Regions from separate parts of the Homo sapiens genome. Here all the other regions are linked to region 1. The links come from fine-mapping of genetic effects on gene expression. A gene starts in region 1. Each other region holds a variant in brackets. All regions are shown on one strand. Distances are from middle to middle. Region 1 holds the start of CILP (cartilage intermediate layer protein). Region 2 overlaps PARP16 (poly(ADP-ribose) polymerase family member 16). Region 3 overlaps PARP16 (poly(ADP-ribose) polymerase family member 16).

Region 1 (2,500 bases):
TGCACGGGCTGCAGCTGGAACACATTTCTGGCCTTTTTGTTTGGGGCCTGACTGGGAGTTACACAGCCAGGAGCCAGCTGACGGAAAGCAGAGGGGATGCATTGTGAGAGGCCAGGGCTCCCCAGTAACTGCTGAGCGTGGGTGAGGAACTGCAAGGGTCAGGAGAGGAAAGCAGGCCTGGGACAAGGGCAAGGAACTATGGGGCGTGCGTGGCCCAGGCCGCAGCTGAGCAGAACATTTTTATGTCTCCCCAGAGCTCCGGCCAACCCAGAATCTGACTCGTTTCTGGGGATTCAAAAGTGGTTCCCTTCAACATCCTAAGTCCAGGGTGTGGTAGGAAAGGGAAGAGTCCTCCTCTCTAAAAAATACACATATCTGAAAACACTGGGATATTCCAGGGGAAGAAAAAACCAGTCCCATGCTGCAGACCTTCTAGCTCTAAAACCACTGGCCCCACCACTACCTGTTTCTCGGATGAGGGAGCAGAGTCACCAGGACGTCCCAAAGGCCTCCACATTGTGTGTATCCCTCTGGGCTCCAAGCAGGGAGCTGAGCAGTCTGCTGGCCTGCACTGCATTCAGCCTGAGCCTGAGCCTGCTCCAGGGATGTCTGGAGGCTGAGGTGGCCTGAGACACCTTGTGGAAAAACCATTTCCCATCTGGCAGCCCACAGAGGTTTCTCAGCATCTCCGCCGTTTCCTCAGCATATGCCCTGATGGTTAGGCTTGCCATCCCACGCTCCTCAGAACACTTGGACAAAGCAGACTGGCTGACCGCAGGGAATAAAGCAGGGCACCCAGAGGTATGGAAACCCTAAGTGGGACCATCTGGGGGTTCCTGTCCTCAGGTGGGGGAGGGAGAGGACTTTGGGCCAATGGGGGAAAGCAGATTCCCAAAGCAGAAAGGGAGTCTTCTCTGTGGGAGATGAAGGATCAGGCAGCAAAAAGTGGGGGGAAGTGGGGAGAAGGGAATGGAGTAGTCAGGGGAGGGCAGGAGCAGTTGAGTCCAGCAGTGGGGTGCAGGGATGGGGTGAGGGGAATAGGAGTGGAGCTCACCGTGTCTTGAGCAGGACTCCTCAGCTGGGGGTCCAAGCCTTCGCCTCTCCAGCAGTCCAGTGCCGGCCTTATATAGCACAGCTGGTGGCTCAGCCTGTGGCAGCCAGCCAGAGGAAGCAGCAGCGAAACCAGATCTGAGCATGAGCCTCCCTCTCCCCTCCCCATGTCCCCTTGCAGTTCACAGAGGCCAGGATTTTATGTCCAGATCCTAAGGAGGAGATGCCGCAGGACCTGGTGATGGGCCAGGTGGGCAGTGGCCTGGGGCATCACAGTCCAGAGCAGAGAGAGGGGTCAGGAGGTGGGCTGGGCACTAGAAACAGCCCTGGGAAGGGGCCACGGGGAATTCTAGATCTGGGCAGCATTTCATGGCCCGGGGGATGGTGTGCTCTTGCCTAAGCCTAGCTTGCTGATGCCCCACATTCCCCTGGCCCTGGCTCGCCCACACAGAGAAAAGACTTTGCTGGTCTTAGCACATACTCCAAACACTCTTAGGCACACAGGCCACCTTGGCCTCTCAGCTGGGTGTGTCTGGTCTGAGTTGGGCAACTACTCAGCTTCTCTGGCTTCTGAGGGAACACTCAGGGAACCTCAGAAGGGATAAGGGACAAAAGAATTGTGGGGCATAGGTTGTCAGCTGGTGAGAACAGTTCTTCCTTTCTCCCCCCCACTTCCATCTGAGTGCCTGCTGGTACCCACTGAGACCCCAGAGCTCCAGCATGTGGACTCTTCTGAGACCCTGATGCTCATATATGTGCATGCGTGTGAGTACGTGTCTGCCTTCAGGTATAGGCATCCACCAGCATGTGAACAGCCAGTGTTACCCATAGGGGGCGTATGCAGCTGCATGTGCTCTGGGGCTTCACACCCCCACTCCCGGCCCCCTGGCCCCAGCATGAGGTTATCTGTTTGCACAGACACTGGTTCTCTAATTTTAGCATGTGTTAGAATCACCTGGAGGGCGGTTAAAGCAGATTTCTGGACCCCACACCCAGAGTTTCTGATTCAGTGGGGCCTGAGACTTTGCATTCTAACAAGTTCCCAGATGAGATTGATGCTGTTGGTTCATGGATCACATTTTGAGATTGACTGGTCACAGTGATAGAGCCCCAGTTGAAGGAAGAAGATGAAGAGCGAGTGTACTAAGGACCACAGTGGGAGCTTCCCAGGTCCTGCCCCATGTAGCAGGCTCATCTAGCCTGGGCTGGGCTTCCTGCCTCATGCCAGCAACTGGAGATGGAGGCCTGGTCCTGTGGCCATCCACGCCAGGGTCAGCTCACTCTCTCCACATACCTTTACCGAGCTCTTATTCCCAGGCTCTAGACTGGGCACTGGGAAGGCACAAGAAAAGAGATGTATCCTTGCACTCAGAGGAAAGAGCCTCACGTGGAAATGATCCCGTAGTACAACAGTGCATACCCACATGCCAGAGAGTTCTGTGTGTGTGTG
Region 2 (2,833 bases), 56 kb after region 1:
CCTGTGCTCCACTCGGAGATTCTCATTTAATTGGTCTGGGATGCAGCCAGGCATCTGGGATTTTTTATTATTTATTTATTTTATTTTTTAATTTTTGAGATGGAGTCTCACTCTGTCACCTAGGCTGGAGTGCAATGGCACGATCTCAGCTCACTGCCACCTCTGCCTCCCAGGTTCAAGCAATTCTCCTGCCTCAGCCTCCCGAGTAGCTGGGATTACAGGCACCCACCACCATGCCCGGCTAATTTTTGTATTTTTAGTATGGATGGGGTTTCACCACGTTGGCCAGGCTGGTCTGGAACTCCCTCAGCCTCCCAAAGTCCTGGGATTACAGGCGTGAGCCACTGCGCCAGGCCTGGCATCTGGGATTTTTAAAAGCTCCCCGAGTGATTCTAAATATGCAGCCAAGGTCGGGAACTATCTTTAAATCGACGCTTTTCAAACTATAACCAGTGCAGGAATCACCTAGAGATCTTGTTAAAATGCAGGTTCTGATTCAGAAGGTCTAGAGTGTGCCCAAGATTTTGCATTTTCTTAGGTCTCCAGGTGATGCTGCCACTGCTGGTGTGCAGACCACATTTTGAGTGAGAAGGCGTTAGTAAACCTACCCGACCCCACCTGCAAACTCCTAGGGTTCTGAATCTCCCCCTCCCCACTCTCCCACCTCCATCCCTGCTTCCCCACATCAGCAGGGTGTCCCTTAGGCCCCACCTTGTTCAGATGGCAGTGCAGGCCATTGTGGATAATGGAATGGAAGTTTTCTAGGCGGCTACCATGAAATGCATAGATTAGGTCTCGTTCTCCTTTGGTCTCATAAAATTTGGCGTTGGCTGGGTCAAAGTACTCAATTTCAAACAGGAAGTCCGGTGCAGGAACAGGCGTGTGAGGAGCCCCAGTCAGCTTTTGGATCTTTTCAAACTTGAAAACATGAAGAGCATCAAAATTTTATTTGGGGAGCTGGTAAATGTGCTGCAAAAATAGCCCCCTAAACTCTCAGGCTTAACTCCCATGGACTCTGCTCATGAGAACAACAGGTTTCATGAGGATAGAGACATAAGCAAACTCAGAGCGTATAGCACAAGACTGCTTTCTTTAATAACATTTTTCCCGGTCGGGTGTGGTGGCTCACACCTGTAATCCCAAAACTTTGGGAGGCCGAGGCAGGTGGATCATTTGAGGTCAGGAGTTCGAGACCAGCCTGACCAACATGGTGAAACCCCATCTCTACTAAAAATACAAAATTAGCCGGGTGTGGCAGTGCACACCTTTAGTCCCAGCTACTT[A/G]GGAGGCTGAGGCAGAAGAATCACTTGAACCTGGGAGGTGGAGGTTGCAGTGAGCAGAGATCACGTCACTGTACTCCAGACTGGGCAACAAGAGTGAAACTCCATTTAAAAAAATAATAATAATAAATAATAACATTTTTCCCTACAGTAGGCTGAGAAGCATGAATTGCTCCTTCTAAGTGGAGATCACAGGGCTGGGTGCGGTGGCTCACACCTGTAATCCCAGCACTTTGGGCGGCCGAGGCAGGCGGATCATGAGGTCAGGAGATCAAGACCATCCCAGCTAACACGGTGAAACCCCGTCTCTACTAAAAATACAAAAAATTAGCCGGGCGTGGTGGTGGGCGCCTGTAGTCCCAGCTACTCGGGAGGCTGAGGCAGGAGAATGGTGTGAACCCAGGAGGCAGAGCTTGCAGTGAGCCGAGATGGCGCCACTGCACTCCAGCCTGGGCGACAGAGCGAGACTCCGTCTCAAAAAATAAATAAATTAATTAATTAAATAATAATTAAAAAAATAAGTGGAGATCACTTCTAATTTTCCTAACTTTTTTTTTTTTTTTTTTTTTTTTTTTTGAGACAGTCTCGCTCTGTCGCCCAGGCTGGAGTGCAGTGACGCCATCTCAGCTCACTGCAACCTCTGCCCCTCCAGGTTTTTTAAGCAATTCTCTGCCTCAGCCTCCGGAGTAGCTGGGATTACAAGTGCGTGCCACCACCCCTGGCTAATTTTTTTTGTATTTTTAGTAGAGATGGGGTTTCACCATCTTGGCCAGGCTGGTCTTGAACTCCTGACCTCGTGATCCACCCGCCTCAGCCGCCCAAAGTGCTGGGATTACAGGCGTGAGCCACCACGCCCGGCCACTTCCTAACACTTTTACATCTATCTCCTGCATTCCATTTTTACAATCATCTCATGTTTATTGTAAAAATTCCCTCTCATCCTTGTCCATGCACCCCTCTGCAATGTGGTTTTGCAGGTGGGATTCTACCAAGATCCCATCAAAAGATGGAACCTACTTCTCCACCCTTAAGACTGTGCTTGGCCATGTGACCTGCTTTGGCCAACGGGACATTAACATATATATAGCAAACAGAGACTTGAGAAGGGCTTGTCTTTCCTTCTTTGCTGCTGAGAACCCCTCACCATTGTCCTGGCTTGTCTGCTATAGAGTATGAGCCTCACAGAGGAAGGCTTCCAGCATGGTGGCCATCCCAGCTGAAGCCCCAGAAATGTAAGTGAGGCCACCCTAGCTCATCCAGCCAAGCCCAGAACCACCCAACCAACCCACAAAATCATGAGAAGCAATTAGCATTTGTTGCTGTTGTTGTTTTTGAGACAGGATCTGGCTCTGTCGCCCAGGCTGGAGTGCAGTGGTGTGATCCTAGCTCATCGCAGCCTTGAACTCCTGGGTTCGAGCAATCCTCTATCCTCAGTTTCTTGAGTAGCTGGGACTATAGGTGCAACTACTATGTGCACCTAATTCTTAAATTTTTCATAGACAGAGGGTCTTGCTATGTTGCCCAGGCTGGTCTTGAACTCCAGCCTCAAGCAA
Region 3 (2,847 bases), 68 kb after region 1:
GAGATAGCTGGGGGAATCTGAATGGTGAGCAGAGCTGAGAGCCTCAGGGGTTTGGGAAGAGAAGCCTCTTAGGAAAGAGGTACTTTGGGTGAATAGGCCTCACAGAGGAAAGAGAGGACCAATGAGCTACAAGGAAGCAACTCAACCTCCTTGCTTGGAGCAGGAGCAATCACTTAGATCACAAGCTCCTGGGGAGGAGGTGGCCCAGGAATCTGTGATTACAGATGTGGGTACAAGTGATTCTTATCATCAGGAAAAGCTGGAGATACTCAGGTTTAGATCTTAGACAATGTTGTCCTAGAAAGGTGCGGCAGCAGGAAAGAACAAACATCTGAAAAACATACTTGTCTAGGAAAGTGTCAGAGGTCACAGTTACTAGATGTGGGTGGAGGTGCTGAGAAGGAAATGAACCAAAGGTCTGCCAAGGTCACCATTTTTGGGACCACAGTGACACCCAGAACAGTGGGGCAGGGGCGATGAGTGGAGCTAGAAGGCTGCTGAAATGAAGGCTGAAGAGGTGGACACCACAGGTACAATTTGCTTTGCACAAACCTACAGTATGAAAGGCCAGATTTGCCAAAACAGATTAGGGATCAGAGTCTACAAAAGAACTCTTCACAGGAGGAGCCAGCATGGGGACCCTAAAGGGTTCTCCTAGGAAGTAGGGGTTCTCCTAGGAACTTTTAAAAGTCCTAGTGCCTGGGAGCAAGAGTGGTGTGCCATCACCACGTCCAGTGATTAGCTGATGGTGATGAAGATAATACTAAAACCTACAACCCTGAGTTGTTAGGAGGATTAAATGAGCTACGTGTAGTAACAGCTCAAGACAGCGCCACACAAACAGTAAGTGCTATTAGTGTGGTACAGGTGTTGGTTGCTATATTATTATTATCAATCAAATACCCTCTCTCTGCTGCTCACCAATCTGCTGAGGAAAGGTCTGCATTTCTGGGATCGTTGGAAGGAAAGAGATGGCTGGTCCTGGAGGGATGGATCCCACCCCTTCACCCTCCATATCACCATCCCATTAGCTGATATCTTTCTAGACACATACCTACCCACTGACAGTCACATAATATTATATGTATCTATGTCTGTATCCATATATTTTCAGACCTGTGTACTTTTTCTCCTCCACTGTTCAGATGCCATCTTTGAGAGGAGCAGAGAAATAA[A/G]AAGGTAATCTGAGAGATCAAGAATCTTACCTTGAGATATCAAGTATAGACCTAATAGGCACTTTTATTATTAACAAATCTAATTGTTATCATTTCCTCACCATCCAGCAGGTATGGGTGCTCATGAAAATGATCAAATCAGTTACTAGAAAAATAGAAAAGCTACATATTATCTGTAAGGAAACAAACAAAAAATCTCAATGCCAAGGCTGCACTTTAAACCAATCAAATGAGAATCTCTGAGGATGGGGCTCAGACGTCAGGGTTTTTTTTTTTCCTTAGTTTCCCACGTGATTTCAATGACAACCAAGGTTGAGAGGCTTGTAAAGAATGATCTTTCCAAACCGGGCTCAATGACACAACTCCTGCTTGAGACCAGGAGTTTGTAGACCAGCTAGGCAACATAGCGAGACTCCTGCCTTTTTTCTTTTAATCCAATAATAATAATAATAACGATCTTCCCCAGTTAATGTCAATATTCAATTTCCAATATGGAAATAAGCATCGAAAGCCTTCCTTAGAAAGGTTAGCCATGAGCCAGGTGTGGTGGTTCACGCCTGTAATCCCAGCATTTTGGAAGGTTGAGACAGGCGGATTGCTTGACTCCAGGAGTTTGAGACCAGCCTGGGCAACATGGTGAAACCCCATCTCTACTAAAAATACAAAAATTAGCCAGGCTTAGTGGTATGTGCGTGGAGTCCCAGCTACACGGGAGGCTGACGTAGGAGGATCGCTTGAGCCCGGGAGGCAGAGGTTGCACTGAGCCAAGATCACGCCACTGCACTCCAAACTGGGCAACAGAGCAAGAACTCGTCTCAAAAAAAAAAAAAAAAAAAATTAGCCATGGACCAGCAATTTCACCTCTCAGAATGTATCCAAGAAGACAACAACAGATATAAACAATGATTAATGTAGAAGGATGTTTATCAAAGTATTATTTATAAAAGCAAAATTTTAAAATTATAAAGAAACCCAAAAGAAGGACTCCTAACTGCTAGGGAGTGGAGGCACAGAATAAGGTGGAAATTTCACGTGTATCTTAAAGGATGAGAGGGAGTTTGCTTCAACAAAGATGGAAATGGCATCAGGAGGGCTCAGGACAGAGAGGAGCTTATATGCGCTTTAACCCAGACACTGGGGAGTCATGGTGTCTAGACAGTGCAAGCCAGAAACCAGAAAGAGGGAGGAAAAAAAAGAGAAAGACTCCTTACTCCTCCAGGACCAGGAGGCCCAATTAGAGCAGTTTGGCACCCCAAATGAGAACAGGGTAAGCTTCATGCAGTGCTTTTCAGACTTCACTATGTGTACAAATTGCCCAGATTTGTTAAAATGCAGATCCTGACTGGATAGGTCTGAGGCAGGACCTGCTTTTCTAATGAGCACCCAGGTGAGGCTCATGTTGCTGGTCCTCAACCACACTAAGCAGCGAGGGCCTGGAGCTAACACAAAGAAGCCATTCCCACACACTTCCCACCCCCAGAAAGGGTCTACAGGCTAATGGAGAACCAGAACATGCTATTTCGGGAGGGAAAACAGAACAAAAAACTGTACAGCTGCGACTGTGTCAAGTGACAAACCTGAAGTTCGGAGGCCAATGGTTAAGGGGTACAGGGAATCCCAAGAATGTTACAGGTTCTCTCATCCAACCCTGGTCCCAAAAAGCAAGGTGAGA

The links. PIP is the estimated chance that this variant, and not a neighbour inherited with it, causes the effect.
Region 2: its variant is the best candidate, but not a certain one, in a credible set for the expression of CILP in whole blood (TOPMed, PIP 0.62).
Region 3: its variant is the best candidate, but not a certain one, in a credible set for the expression of CILP in whole blood (TOPMed, PIP 0.65).

What each region holds. Positions count from the first base shown.
Region 1 is chr15:65,210,374-65,212,873 of GRCh38, forward strand. It overlaps CILP (cartilage intermediate layer protein), which reads right to left and starts at 1,100. Exons shown (of 9, transcript NM_003613.4): 1 at 1,055-1,100. RefSeq lists an enhancer at 1,729-2,500.
Region 2 is chr15:65,265,851-65,268,683 of GRCh38, forward strand. It overlaps PARP16 (poly(ADP-ribose) polymerase family member 16), which reads right to left. Exons shown (of 6, transcript NM_001316943.2): 3 at 712-918. Among named protein-coding and RNA genes, the nearest start is that of SNORA24B, 18 kb to the right of the region's middle. The variant A/G (reference allele first, on the strand shown) is at 1,284.
Region 3 is chr15:65,278,445-65,281,291 of GRCh38, forward strand. All of the region lies in intron 1 of PARP16 (poly(ADP-ribose) polymerase family member 16), which reads right to left. Among named protein-coding and RNA genes, the nearest start is that of SNORA24B, 5.7 kb to the right of the region's middle. The variant A/G (reference allele first, on the strand shown) is at 1,176.